2 linked regions of the Homo sapiens genome follow. The protein of the gene in region 1 binds, or shares a complex with, the protein of each later gene. Each region holds a gene or a part of one and is shown on either strand. Other genes may lie near its edges. A codon is read from its position in the direction of its gene.

Region 1 (7,023 bases):
TGCAGATACCGCTTCAAGATCCCGTTTTCAGTTCTTTTAGATTTATACCCAGAGTGAGATTGCTGGAGCAGATGGTAGTTCTGTTTCTGAATATTTTAGGGAACCGCTATACTGTTTTCCATAGCAGTTACACCATTTTGCAATCCCTCCAAGTGTACAAGGGTCCCAGTTTCTCCATATCCTCACCAACACTTGCTGTTTTGTTTTGTTTTGTTTTTGATACTAGCCATCTTAATTGTGGTTTTGATTTGCGCTCTTTGTTGATTAGTGATGTTGAGCACTTTTGTGTGTGTGTTTTGGCCACTTTGTGTATCATCTTTGGAGAAATGACTAATTCGGGTCATTGTGCCTATTTTTAAAATCAAATTACTATTATTTGTTGAATTGTAGTTCTTTATATATTCTGATATTAACACCTTCTTAGAGATACAATTTGCAAGTATTTTCTCCGAATCCGGAGGTTGCCTTTCCACTCTGTGGATTGTGTCCTTTGATGTACCTGCCTGTTTCTTTTCATCTGTTCCAGCTTCCTGACCTATTAAGCATGCTTCTGAGATCTCTAAGGGGAACTAATTTAGAGGGTGTTAAGAGTTCTTTCAGGTTTTAATTTTGTTGACCTAATGAAAGTCATATAATTTAGAATGTATGGTTAGAGAAAATACACCTGTGTGTTAATGCCATGGTGCTTTGCTGTAAGGCCATCATCGAAATCTTAGTAATGACTGGCTGGGCACGGTGGCTCATGCCTGTAATCCTAGCACTTTGGGAGGCCGAGGTGGGCGATCATCTGAGGTCAGGAGTTCGAGACCAGCCTGGCCGCCATGGCGAAACCCCGTCTCTATTAAACTCCATCTTTACTAAGTGCCGTCTCTACTGTCTCAAAATAAAAATACAAAAATTAGCTGGGTGTGGTGGTGGGCGCCTATAATCCCAGTTACTTGGGAGGCTGAGGCAGAAGAATCCCTTGAACGTGGGAGGTGGAGGTTGCGGTGAGCCGAGATTGTGCCACTGCACTCCAGCCTGGGCAACAAGAGTGAAACTCCGTCTCAAAAAAAAAAAAAATTTGTAATGACCAATAGGAGAACTTTAAACAAACTTTAGACAAATTCCATACACACAGAAATAGAATTTTGTACATGTGATTGCATGGGAAGGATGGCTTGCTTTCTGGGGGAGTTCCCTATGGTAATCATTTAAAAGTCTGTCTTTCTGTTCTCTGCAGTGGGAAAGTATACCTTAAGGTTACCTAGATGGCTTCAGATCTTCAAGAAAAAAGTTAAAAAGAAAGAAGACTCTAGCACATCCTAATTATTATAGTTCTTAAGAAGCTTACGGCTCCTGCCCCTGACTTGCGCAGCAGTTCTTCAGTGCAGTGTACCATGAGCATTAATGTCTTGGGGGCTCTGTACAGTGTTCTGTAATATCGGAATATTTAGGGTACATTGAAAATGTGCCTGGATTATAAAGTACTGCATTTGTATGGAGTCTTATGAACACATCTGCTAGAAGAAGGGAGCTCCTCCCAGGCCCAGTGTAGACTGGAGTCGAGGTGGAGGCCAAGCAGAAGGCAGATCTGCCATGGTCTGGGAGGTGGCCGAGTTAACACATGGGGTCCTGGAGGTGTCAGTTTCTTTTGGCCGTTTCCTGGATGAGGAGAAATTTGTTGTAAATTGCTCTTAGGTGTATCCATGTGCTCCACATGCCCAGGCATGTGGAGGCACAGATAAGGATTTTGGAGGGAAACAGCCTACCCAGGCTATAATTGCTTTGTTAAGGGGCAGGTTCCCTAATCCACTCTTGGAGCCTTGTTTCTCATCTGGCTAATAGGGCCAGTGATGCCTGCCTCTCAGTCGTGGCAAAGAGTAAATGAGTTAGGAGGCTCTGTAAAGCACCAAGCATAGGGCTGGTTAAGTAGTAGCTGTAATAAGTACAAGTGAGAATGTTCATTTCACTTAGTGGGTTTCTTCTGCTTTTTATTCTCAGAGCGCACTGTAAGGATCTTCTGACAGTTTGCTGTTATTGATTTATTTATTAATTGAGACTGAATCTCGCTCTGTCACTCACGCTGGAGTGTGATGGTGCAATCTTGACTCACTGCAACCTCTGCCTCCTGGGTTCATTCAAGCAATTCTTGTGCCTCAGCCTTCTGAGTAGCTGGAATTACAGGCATGTGCCACCACGCCTGGCTAATTTTTGTATTTTTAGTAGAGATGGGGTTTTACCATTTTGTCCAGGCTGGTCTCGAACTCCTGACCTCAGGTGATCCGCCCACCTTAGCCTCCCAAAGTGCTGGGATTAGTTTGCCGTTTTTTAAATGAAGATCCTGTTTCTTAAACTCTGCTTCAGGTATTACCAGAGAAACGGAGTCTGAAACTCTTGAAGAGCCACAATCTCAATGTGAATTGGTACATGTACTGCCCCGAGAGCGCCGTGATCTTGCTGTCTACCACGGTCCTGGAGAATGTCCTGCAGCCTTTTCACTTTAGGGTAAGAGGAAGCCTCCCCTGAAAAAAACACCTTTCCCCAGTTGTCCCCTGTTCCTGTAGCATCCTAATGTGTCAGGCACGTTAGGGACAGGTTCCTCTAGCCGTAACGTCACCGCTCTGACCACTAGAGGGCACTCTGTATACCCGTCAGCTCCTGGAGCCATTCATTCTATGCTGGGCAGACAGGCTGTGAGAGGACATGGGGGACGGTGGAAAGGATCCAAAGACGAAGTCTGTGTTTATCCTTGTTGGTTTTACACAGGGAATGATGAAACATTGAAGGGGTTTAATAAGCTTTTCCTAAAACATTTTCCCCCTAAACAGGCTGGCACTATGTCGAAGCTGCCCAAATTTGAGATTGAATTACCAGCTGCGCCTAAGTCAACTAAACCCAGCCTTTCCGAAAGAGACATCGCAATGGCTACCATGTATGTCCGTGTCAGAGAGAATTCCATCCTGTGATTGCTTTCAGTAATATAAATAATAGAAGGAGTGTGTTACAAGCACCACGTGATGCCCTGACCCCTAGAACACATAAGGAGGACTCCCCTTGTTCTGGGTATTCAGTGTATAGGTCCTGTGAACATAGAAAACCTGCAGTGTTTTTGGCATTCCTTTTTGATTTTTATCAGCTTTGTGATGCTAAGGAATTCCTTTACCTTTCTAGCCTGATAAAACAAGAACATTGAACCAATTTATTTCTTAGTATCTTTGTTTTAGAATTTCTTCTTCTTTTTTTTTTTTTTTCGAGACAGAGTCTTGTTCTGTCCCCTAGGCTGGAGTGCAGTGGTGCAGTGTCGGCTCACTGCAGCCTCCACCTCCCAGGCTCAAACGATTCTTCTGCTTCAGCCTCCCAAGTAGCTGGGATTACAAGTGTGCGTCACCTCGCCCGGCTAGTCTTTGTATTTTTGGTAGAGACAGGGCTTCACCATGTTGGCCAGGCTGGTCTCGAACTCCTGACCTCAAGTGATCCACCTGCCTTGGCTTCCCAAAGTGCTGGGATTACAGGCATGAGCCACTGTGCCTGGCCAAGTTTATTTTTTTTAAAAGCTCAGTTAAATAATAATTGTTCTAAATAAGAAAATAGATTAAGATTTTATGTAACAGACATGGAACTAAATTACGTATATATAGAGGTATATTTTCTTTTACTTTTTTTTTTTGTTTGTTTTTGTGATGGAGTCTTGCTCTGTTGCCAGGCTGGAGTACAGTGGCACGATCTTGGCTCACTGCAACCTCCGCCTCCCAGGTTCAAGCGATTCTCCTGCCTCAGCCTCCCGAGTAGCTGGGACTACAGGTGCGTGCCACCATGCCCAACTAATTTTTGTATTTTTAGTAGAGACAGGGTTTCACCATGTTGGCCAGGGTGGTCTCGGTCTCTTGACCTCTTGATCTGCCCTCCTCAGCCTCCCAAAGTGTTGGGATTACAGGCGTGAGCCACCACGCCTGGCAGTACGGAGGTATATTTTCATTTGAAAAAGTGGATATCTCAGTTTTTAAATTTGTAATGAAAATTTTAAACACACAATAGAGACTAATAAAAAAGAACCCCTGTATGCCTGTATCTGATTCGACAATAGTCAAAATTTTGCTTCTAAGTTACTTCTGATTCTTCTGTGGCCTAAAACAGTGGCCCAAACTTTCAAACTTTATGGTAGTTAGTATAATGTTCTTTCATTTCTTCTTCCTTTTTTTTTAAACGTACTCTTCTGTGGCATTCCTGTTTATTTTTAAATTTTTTTTGGAGAGTGTCGCTCTGTTGCCCAGGCTGGAGTGCAGTGTTACAATCTCAGCTCACCACAACCTCCGCCTTCTAGGTTCAAGTGATTTTCCTGCCACAGTCTCCCAAGTAGCTGGGACTACAGGCGCATGCCACCACATCTGGATAATTTTTGTATTTTCTGAAGAGATGGAGTTTCACCATGTTGCCCAGGCTGGTCTTGAACTCCTGGGCTCGGGTGATCCTCCCGCCTCATCCTCCCAAAGTGCTGGGTTTATAGGCATGAGCCGCCGTGCCCAGCCAGCATTCCTGTTTAGACAATAGATAAAGTGAGAGCAGTCCTGGCTGAAGTGGAGGTGGGGACCTGTTCCCTCCCACCTTGGTCTCCTCCTTGTCCCTGGGCAGGCCCAGCACAGAGTTTACCACTGGACTAGAATATGCATTCAGGAACTGTTCACAGCAACATTTATTAGATGGCACTTAAATAGAAAAGGCTGAGCATGGTGGCACACACCTGTAATACCAGTGACTGGGGAGGCCAAGGCAGGGGGATCGCCTTGAGGCCAGGAGTTCAAGACCAGCCCGGGCAACATAGTGAGACCCTGTTTCTACAAAAAAATTTAAAAATTAGCCAGGCACGGTGGCACGTGCATGTAGTCCTAGCTACTGGGGAGGCTGAGGTGAGGGAAGATCGCCAAAGCCTAGGAGGTGGAGGTTGCAGTGAGCTGTGGTTGCACCACTGCATTCCAGCCTGGGTGACAGAGGGAGACCCTGTCTCTGAAAAATGAAAAAAAAAAATAGTGATTATATTTTCCTGTTATTAAGGAATATACATTCATTATACAAAACTTGGAAAACAGAGAAGAAAATGAACTTAGCATATCACTCAAGTATAACTATTACATGTGTTTCTTTCCAATCATTTTAGACTCTATGCTTAGGTTTGGGGTTTTCTTTTAAAATATTATGATCAAGCTGTGTTTAGTGTGTGTTCTCTTTTCCACTTAACTTTATAATAGGCTTTGAGTAACTGCATGTTTCTTTGTAAACACTTGTTGGCAGCAAAATACTCCATTAAGTGAATATCTTATAATTTACTTAACCGTGATGCCATTTAGAACAAAGGAATTTTGAATGGCCAGATGTGATTTATGTCTGTTTGTTCCCTAATTAGATACGGGCAGCTGTATGTTCTCTTCTTGAGGCATCATTCTCGGACCTCCAACAGCACAGGAGCGGAGGTGGTCCTCTATCATCTACCACGGTAGATTTCATGCTTTGTTTTCCCTCTCTCTCTGATTTTAAAATGTGAACTGCAGCTTGTTGATCTGTTTTTTGCTTTCTATCCTACAGAGAAGGTGCCTGTAAAAAGATGCACATATTGAAGTTAAATAGGACGGGAAAGTTTGCCCTGAACGTGGTGGACAACCTGGTAGTCGTGCATCATCAGGATACAGAGGTACAAGCTGTCTGCGTTTCTACCAAAGTTAAGGTTGCTTAAAAGCCTTGTGAAAATTGGTGGCTGGGCACGGTGGATCACGCCTGTAATCCCAGCACTTTGGGAGGCCAAGGCGGACAGATTGCTTGAGCCCAGGAGTTCGAGACCAGCCTGAGCAGCATGGCAAAACCCCACCTATATAAAAAATACAAAAATTAGCCGGGCGTGGTAGTGCACGCCTATAGTCCCAGCTACTTGTGGGGCTAAGGCTGGAGGATGGCTTGAGCCCAGGAGGTCGGGGCTTCAGTGAGTGGAGATCGCGCCACTGCACTCCAGCCTGGGTGATGGAGCAAGATCCTGTCTCCGAAAAAAAAAAAAAATTGGCAAAATGTCTGAATAAGACTAGAAAGTGCATTTTTATGCTAAGAGTTTTGGTCTTCCAGATGGAAATGGGTTTGGTAGTCTCAAGTAGTTTAGAAAAAAGTGATTGTGTCAGTTGATTAAAGATAATTCAAAACTATTTCAGAAACTAACGCTTGAGATTTGACCTTGGAAGAAGGTGGGAATCCGCTCCATTCCACGAGTACTTGAACTCTCTGTTGCAATTGTGAGCATGGATGACAGTGCTGGGGGATAATGGTTTTGAGGCCGTGTGGACCAGGACAACTAGAATGGGTCCTGTGGGCTGGGCCTCTGATATAAAGAAGCTGCTTACCTCCTCTACCCTCCCAGAGGGTGGTGACGCTAACTCTGTGACACGTGAGGATGTTTCCAGTTGAAATGACAGAGATCTGCTTAGGTCACTTTGAGTGAGCTCATCAAAGGAAGCATGTCATAAATGCAGGAAATACTTGTGAGAGGAGATAAAAATATTAAAAGAGAGTTGTGATGTTAATGACAAATTCCTTCTCAAGTAAGAGCTAGCCTGTAGGGAGGAAATGCAAACACAGGCTTTTAAACTGATTTAAACAGCAAGATGGGATGGAATGAAAGCAACTGGGCAAACCATGATTGATTTTGGCCTCAGTCTTGTCTTTTTCCCCCCCAGACATCGGTAATATTCGATATCAAGTTACGGGGAGAGTTTGACGGCTCCGTTACCTTCCACCACCCCGTGCTTCCCGCTCGATCGATCCAGCCCTATCAGATCCCCATCACAGGTAACACGGGTTCTGTAGAGGAGTCTGTGCTGCCCTTTCACCATGTGGCTGTGTTCTCACCATGATCTTTGGGAGTCACGTTAAAAGTGGAGTGAGGAATAAACAGAGATTCCCAGATCTGTCTGATTTTGCCAGGGGCCATTTGTTCCAGTTTTGTTGTTGTTTTGAGACAGTCTCACTGAGTCACCCAGGCTGGTAGGTAGTGTCGTGATCTTGGCT
Region 2 (7,023 bases), on another chromosome or scaffold:
ATCCCTGACCTTAGGTGATCTGCTCACCTTGGCTTCCCCAAGTGCTGGGATTACAGGTGTGAGCTTCCGCGCCCGACCACCTTCACGGTATTTCAGTGATCTTGAATAGAAAACGCCCAGATCCAGCCTCATTGTCTGTCTCCTTTTAAAAAACCGGTTCCAGAGTCTGATACCTGCTAGTTTCTCTGTGCTTTTTCCATGTGCTGCTCCTTCCTGCCTCATTTCAGATCAGATGGTTTGCCTGAAAGCTTGTTTTTCTCTTCCTCCTCTTTCTTCACCGAAGATCCGGAGAATTAAAATCCATGTACATTTCTGAGACCTAGGATCACGTTCCCTGTCTACAGCATACCCATATTTTCCCAGGGGACTAGGGGAGAGAATGTGGCATTACCATATAACCCAGGAAGCTAAGAGACATCTGCTCCTAAAATGAAACAGTGTGGCTTTGGAGGTTTCCTGCATAATCCTACACGGAATTCAACCAGCGAGTCCAATCCCTTGTGACTTTTTTTTTCATCTCAAATGGCATGTAAAATACAGGACTGTAGGAGTAGCCTTTTGCAGGTCAGGATAAAGTTCCAGTGCCTGGGCTGAAGTTTAACTCTTTACCTTCCTTAACTTCGCGGTCAGGTGGTGAGCCTCTTGATATAATGTTAAAGAAAAAAGCACCAGTTGTCCCAGCTACTCAGGAGGCTGAGGTGGGAGGTTTGCTTGAGCCTGGGAATCGGTGGCTGCAGCAAGCTGTGGTCACACCACTGTAATCCAGCCTGGGCGACAGACGAGACTCATCTCTTGAAAAATGAAAAAAGATGAGACCAGGCACAGTGGCTCACATATGTAATCCCAGCACTTTAGGAGGCTGAGGCGGGAGCACTGCTTGAGTCCAGGAGTTCGAAACCAGCCTGGCAACGTAGCAAGACCCCCATCTCTACATAAAATACAAAAATTAGCTGATGGTGGCGCATGCCTGTAGTCCCAGCTAGTCTGGAGGCTGAGATGGGAGGACCGCTTGAGCCCTGGAGGCCAAGGCTGCAGTGAGCCATGATCGCACCACTGCTTCCAGCCTGGGTGACAGAGCAAGACCTTGTCTCAAAAAAAAAAAAGAAAAAAAAATTTTTTTTTAATAAAAAATGAGCTTTATCCAGGGCTTCAAATTCTTTGGAAAAGTTTGACAAAGTATACCACGTAAATTCAGATTTACCTCAATGCTAAGAATTATGTTTAGGAAAAAGGAAACTCATTTTGATCTCAGGTAGAAAAATAGATTGCTTTGAGTTTTAAGTAGCTTTAAACTTTAAAAAGTTAGAATTTATTCTGTGTTACTAAAAATGACTTGAAAAAAAAATTTTTGTTTAATGAGCTTTATCACAGCAGTGGAAAGACAGAAGACAGTTCGAAACGTTTAACCCAGTGCTTTTCTGTTGTTGCAGGAGTGGATTAGAACAAGATGACATGAGAATTTTATACAAATACCTTACCACCTCCCTTTTCCCAAGGCACATCGAACCTGAGGTATGATGGGTACCATAGCTGCACACAATTACATGCAGGGGCACAGAGAGGGCAGGTGGAGTGAGATGGTGGTGCATGGGGGTGTTTCTGATCGTTTCTGATGTATGTTTTGTCTTAGTGTGTTATTTATGTCACTGTATATCAATTAGCACAGAAAACCACATGCAGCTCTCCTCCAGTATGTGACATTCAGATGTGATACAGAAAGCATCGTTTTGTGTGTCTGTGTGTTGGTTTTTTTGTGTGTGTTTTTGTTTGTTTGGTTTTTGAGACGGAGTCTCGAACTTTCACCTGGGATGGAGAGGTTCAAGCAATTCTCCTTGCCTCGGCCTCCCTAGTACCTGGGATTACAGGCGCCCGCCACCACGCCCAGCTAATTTTTTTGTATTTTTAGTAGAGACAGGTTTCACTATGTTGGCCAGGCTGGTCTCGAACTCCTGACCTTGTGATCTGCCCACCTTGGCCTCCCAAAGTGCTAGGATTACAGGCGTGAGCCACTGCCCCCAGTCCACAAAGCATGTTTTTAAGAGGAGTGAGTCATTGAGTAGAGGAAAATTGGATTTTATTTTACTTTTAATTTATGTATTTTATTTTATTTATTTATTTATTTATTTATTGGGACAGAGTTTCGTTCTTTTCGCCCAGGCTGGAGTGCAGTGGTTTAATCTCAGCTCACTGCAACTTCCGCTTCCTGGATTCAAACAATTCTCCGGCCTCAGGCTCCCAAGTAGCTGAGATTATAGGCACCTGCCACCATGCCTGGCTAATTTTTATATTTTTAGTAGAGATGGAGTTTCACCATGTTGGCCAGGCTGGTCTCGAACTCCTGACCTCAGGTGATTGACCTGCGTCAGCTTCCCAAAGTGCTGGGATTACAGGCGTGAGCTACTGCTCCTGGCCAAAAAAATTGGATTTTAGGTTGGGTTCTAGAAACCTTTAAAATGCCAGTGATCTTTAAAACAATCAACCTGTGTAGTATTTTCCTCTATCAACAGGAGACCTAATTTTCAGTAGATGTTTTAGTGCCTACCTGGCTTTCCACTCTAGTACTTAATTTCCTGGTTTCCTGCAGAGAACTTTTAAATGATATCACTGTGTTCTCCCCAAAGTATTTTCAGAGCTTAACACACAAAAATCATTTTGGCTCAGTTGAACTCACTCTCTTCGCTTGTTCATTCCCTCCCTCTTGTCCTCCCGCTCTCCAATATTTTTTTTAAGAGATGAGGTCTCACTTTGTTGACTCGGATGGTCTCAAACTCTTGGGCTCAAGCGGTCCTGTCACCTCAGCCTCCCAAGTAGCTGAGACTACAGGTGTGTGCCACCACACCTGGTTAATTTTTTGTAGAGATGGGATCTCGTCATGTTGCCCAGGCTGTTCTCAAACTCCTGGGCTCAAGTAATCTGCCTGCCTTGGCCTCCCAAAGTGCTGGGATTATAGGCGTGAGCCACCTCACCTGGCCAAAAATTTAAAAACTAGCCAGGTTTGGTCACACATGCCTCTATCAGGAGGCTGAGGTGGGAGGGTTGCTTGAGCCTAGGAGTTCAAGGCTATAGTGAGCCATGATCATGCTGCATGCATTCCAGCCTGGGCAACAGAACAAGATCCTGTCTCTAAAAGAAAAAGACAAATGGCATGGAACCAATTAGTAGATAATGCTGTTTTTCAAAGCTTGGAAAATAAATAAAAAGTCTGATAAGTCATTCTCAACATTAAATGTATTTGCAGTTAGCAGGAAGGGATTCTCCAATAAGAGCAGAAATGCCAGGAAATCTTCAACACTATGGAAGGTAGGACTTCTGTTCTTTGATTTATGATACTGGGTTTTCTTTCTTTTTTGACTCAGAGTCTGGCTCTGTTACCCAGGCTGGAGAGCAGTGGCAAGATCTCCGCTCACTGCAACCTCTGCCTCCCCGGGCTCAAGTGATTCTCATGCCTCAGCCTCCCAAGTAGCTGGAACTACAGGCATGAGCCACTATGCCTGGCTAATTCATTTTGTATTTTTAGTAGAAACAGGGTTTCATCATGTTGGCCAGGCTGGTCTTGAACTCCTGACTTCAAGTGATCCACCTGCCTTGGCCTCCCAAAGTGCTGGGATTACAGGTGTGATCCACCATGCCTGGCCTATTATCTTTTTGGTAAAGATAATATGGACATTGAAATATCTTTGTGCCATCTGATTGACAGTAATCAACAAAGGAAAGTTTGTTGTTTCCAATGAGTTAAAACTTACTTCAGCATACCCTTTTTTTTTTTTTTTTTTTTTTTTTGAGATGGAGTGTCTCTCTGTCGCTCAGGCTGGAGTGTGGAGTACAGTGGCACGATCTCAGCTCACTGCAGCCTCCATCTCCTGGGTTCAAGCAATTCCCCTGCCTCAGCCTCTCTAGTAGCTGGGATTGCAGGTGCCCACCACCAGAACCAGCTAATTTTTGTAGTTTTAGTAGAGATGAGGTTTTGCCATGTTGGCCAGGCTGCCCTTGAACTCCTGACTTCAGGTGATCCACCCAGCTCAGCCTCCCAAAGTGCTGGGATTACAGGCATGAGCCACCACGCCCAGCCGGCCTATTCTGATATGGTGTTTGCCAAATAGCAGCTGGCATCAAAAGCAACTGGTGTGTATGAAGTGGGAGTGTGTTCTGTTTCTAGATTCCTGATTCTCCTTCACCTCGTTGAATCAAGTCATGTCTGTTCTTGCTTTTAAGATTTCTTACCGGACCCTTGAACCTCAATGATCCAGATGCAAAATGCAGATTCCCCAAAATTTTTGTAAATACAGATGACACTTATGAAGAGCTCCATTTAATCGTTTATAAGGTAACAACTGTTTTCCTTCCAGCGTTAATGATTGTGCTGAAATGGATCTTTCTTGCATGTGTACACGAGTGCATGTGCAAACCTCTTAAATGTTTCTTGGAAAAGATATTGGAAGTTCTGATTATGGTAAAACTCAAAATGGGTGTTCTTCCAGCGTAATAAGTTTATTTTCAGCTCCTTTTAAACAGTTCTGTTATTAGTGAAAGAGGAACTGTTTAAGATTGTGATTTATAAACGTGTGAAGTCTCACGTGCTCTCAAACCAAAGGCTGTCAGAGGTTGGTGCTGCCTGTTCTCGAAATGGCTCTGGATGGGGGCCGTAGCCACGTGTCTGTGCATATGCTGCTTTTGCTCTGATTTTAAAGCTGTAGGCTTGCTAATTCCATAAGGATCGTATTTTGTTTCTGTCAGGACATGGTCTTGTAAGGATATGTACTCAGGTTGTGTTTCTAATTAAAGGCAGTTTTTGATTCAAGAAAGAAGACGGAGCATGTGCACGTGTTTATCCTCTTTCCTGCCTGAGGCTGTGGAGAAGTTTTCATTTATAAAGGCTCAGAAATGATGCCGTGGGGGAACAGGAAGGAGCGGGATGTGTCAGGATGAGGGAGTCCTGTCCCTCTCTGGAAGGTAGACGGGACTTGTAAACCATGCCTGATAGAGGGCGGTGCCGGAGCAGGCCTGGAATATGAGTGGCAACCCTGTGCTAAGGCAAGGACCCACAGCCCTGTGGAAGCCCAGAGAGGCTCCTGACTTGGAGGAGGTCACCTGAGGAGTCAGAGTGGGGCCTGGGCCTGGAAAGGTGGGGAAGGGAAGTGAAGTGTGGCAGAGAGGCCAGTCAGCCTCCCCTTCCCCCATCCTTGCACAGACAGGCCCACGGCTGAGCATCCATCCCTGGGTGACAATCGAGGGTCTGTTTAAAGAAAGGAAACAGTCTGAAGAGACCCAGAGTGGCTAACGTGGATGTCTGCCCCTGAGAATGAGGCCCTGCTCATTCTGGCATTTCTTTCTTCCAGACAGAACTGAGACCTTCATCCTACACTCAGAGTGAAGCCTCCATCTCTGGTCAGCCTTCTGGTTCCCTCATTGTTAAATATGGCTGCAAAAACAAAACTAGAGGTCTCGAAAGAAACATGATTCCGAGGACAGACGAGAACTTTAAAAATTAGTATCCACTAATTAGAAGAGTTGTATCTATTAATATAAAATTGAAATGGGCCAGGTGCAGTCCCAGCACTTTGGGAGGCCAAGGTGGGAGGATCACTTGAGGCCAGGAGTTGGAGGCCAGCCTGGGCAACATAGTAAGACCCTGTGTCGACAGGAAAATGTTTAAAAATTAGCCAGGCATGGCAGTGCTCATGTGTAGTCCCAGCTACTCAGGAGGCTGAGGCAGGAGAACCGCTTGAGCCCAAGAGTTGGAGGATGTAATGAGCTATGATCACACCACTGCATTCTAGCCTGGGTGACAGAGTGAAACCCTCTCAAAAATAATGAAACTGGTATCAACAGTTTCATATCCAGCACCAGACATTATGTGACAGTGGAAGAGAGACTTTCAAAGTTCTGAGAGAAAATGAATTTGAGCATAGAGTTCTTTGCCATGCCAAGCTGTCAACCACAGATAAGACAAAAGAAAGACATTAGCCGGGGCATGGTGGCTCACGCCTATAATCCCAGCACTTTGGGAGGCCAAGGTGGGCGGATCACCTGAGGTCTGGAGTTCGAGACCAGCCTGGCCAACATGGGGAAACCCTGTCTCTACTAAAAATACAAAAAATCAGCCAGGTGAGGTGGCGCACGCCTCTAATCCCAGCTACTCCGGAGGCTGAGGCAGGAGAATCACTTGTACCCGCGAGGCGGAGGTTGCAGTGAGCTGAGCTTACGCCACTGTGCTCCAGTCTGGGCAACAGAGCAAGACTCTGTCTCAGAAAGAAAAAAAAAAACACGTTCAACATGAAAAGCCTCAAAAAGTTTACCGTCATGCACCCTTCCTGAGGGTGTTACACAGGGTCATCCGTCAGCAGAATAAGTGAGCACACCAAGAAGGAACACTTGGGAATCCAGAACAGTAGTTCTCATGTGTGAGACGGTACAAGGAAATCTTGGGGTGATAAGGCTCTTCAGGTCTGCTGGCGGCACCCCACCTCCAGCAGCTCCGTGACAGCAGGAGGAGGGAGGGCTCTAGGGTTCAAGCCGCCAAGATAAAAAGATGTTTCATTCATCACATGGTGTGCTTGAGAGTCACTTAAAGTTGGGCTGTGACAGACTGGCAGGGAAGGGGAGATTGCAGGCAGAGCATACAGAAAGATGTGGTCTGAAAAAGCAAACCAAAATGTTGGAGGTGTAATTCAGAGCAGGAATTGGAGTAGGAAGAATGTCCGTTTGTGTATCGAGTGAAAGTTTGAGACCCCATCTCAAGAAAAAAATCATCCTCCTTTGAATGACCCAGGTAATGACTGAAATCTCCATAACCCTGGTGTGTAATATGCTGTCGGCTGCATTTCTATTTTTAGAGTCAATCTACAGACATATTGTGGGGTGTGATGATGGGGTTGTGGCTATGTTAAAGGGTCCTTACCTTTTTCTTAATGACTTTGAGATACAATGCACGTACCATACAACTCACCCTCCTACACTTAAAATGTACAGTTCAGTGATTTCTAGTTGCAAAGTTCATGAGTCTCCAAGACCATCCTCACTTCT

The links. Proteins that work in one complex are often made in the same cells at the same time.
Region 2: the proteins of RMC1 (region 1) and CCZ1B are in contact, whole or in part, in a cryo-EM structure (PDB 9L0D), measured with the Homo sapiens proteins. Residues at the interface, in NP_037458.3 of Homo sapiens: Arg403, Ala404, Ser405, Leu406, Pro407, Lys477, Phe478, Ala481, Met484, Glu485, Ile487, Arg488, Asn491, Gln492, Tyr516, Met517, His519, Gln520, Phe521, Gln523, Tyr524, His525, Val526, Ser528, Tyr544, Pro546, Gln549, Leu552, Asp553, Lys556; in NP_932765.1 of Homo sapiens: Phe195, Phe196, Pro197, Leu198, Lys200, Met201, Tyr203, Leu204, Lys205, Gln207, Ser208, Asn211, Arg212, Glu214, Glu215, Val220, Lys221, Leu231, Ile232, Trp233, Ser234 (codon at 1,432), Leu236 (codon at 1,438), Glu237 (codon at 1,441), Gln238 (codon at 1,444), Met384, Asn385, Asp426, Asp445, Arg446, Arg447.

Annotation. Positions count from the first base shown.
Region 1 is NC_000018.10:23,513,510-23,520,532, forward strand, and holds part of RMC1 (regulator of MON1-CCZ1 complex), read left to right. Parts: intron 1-2,346; coding exon 2,347-2,487; intron 2,488-2,810; coding exon 2,811-2,914; intron 2,915-5,380; coding exon 5,381-5,470; intron 5,471-5,559; coding exon 5,560-5,665; intron 5,666-6,692; coding exon 6,693-6,804; intron 6,805-7,023. UniProt on the Homo sapiens protein: Component of the CCZ1-MON1 RAB7A guanine exchange factor (GEF). Acts as a positive regulator of CCZ1-MON1A/B function necessary for endosomal/autophagic flux and efficient RAB7A localization.
Region 2 is NC_000007.14:6,809,253-6,816,275, reverse strand, and holds part of CCZ1B (vacuolar fusion protein CCZ1 homolog B), read left to right. Parts: intron 1-1,430; coding exon 1,431-1,512; intron 1,513-3,238; coding exon 3,239-3,300; intron 3,301-4,212; coding exon 4,213-4,324; intron 4,325-7,023.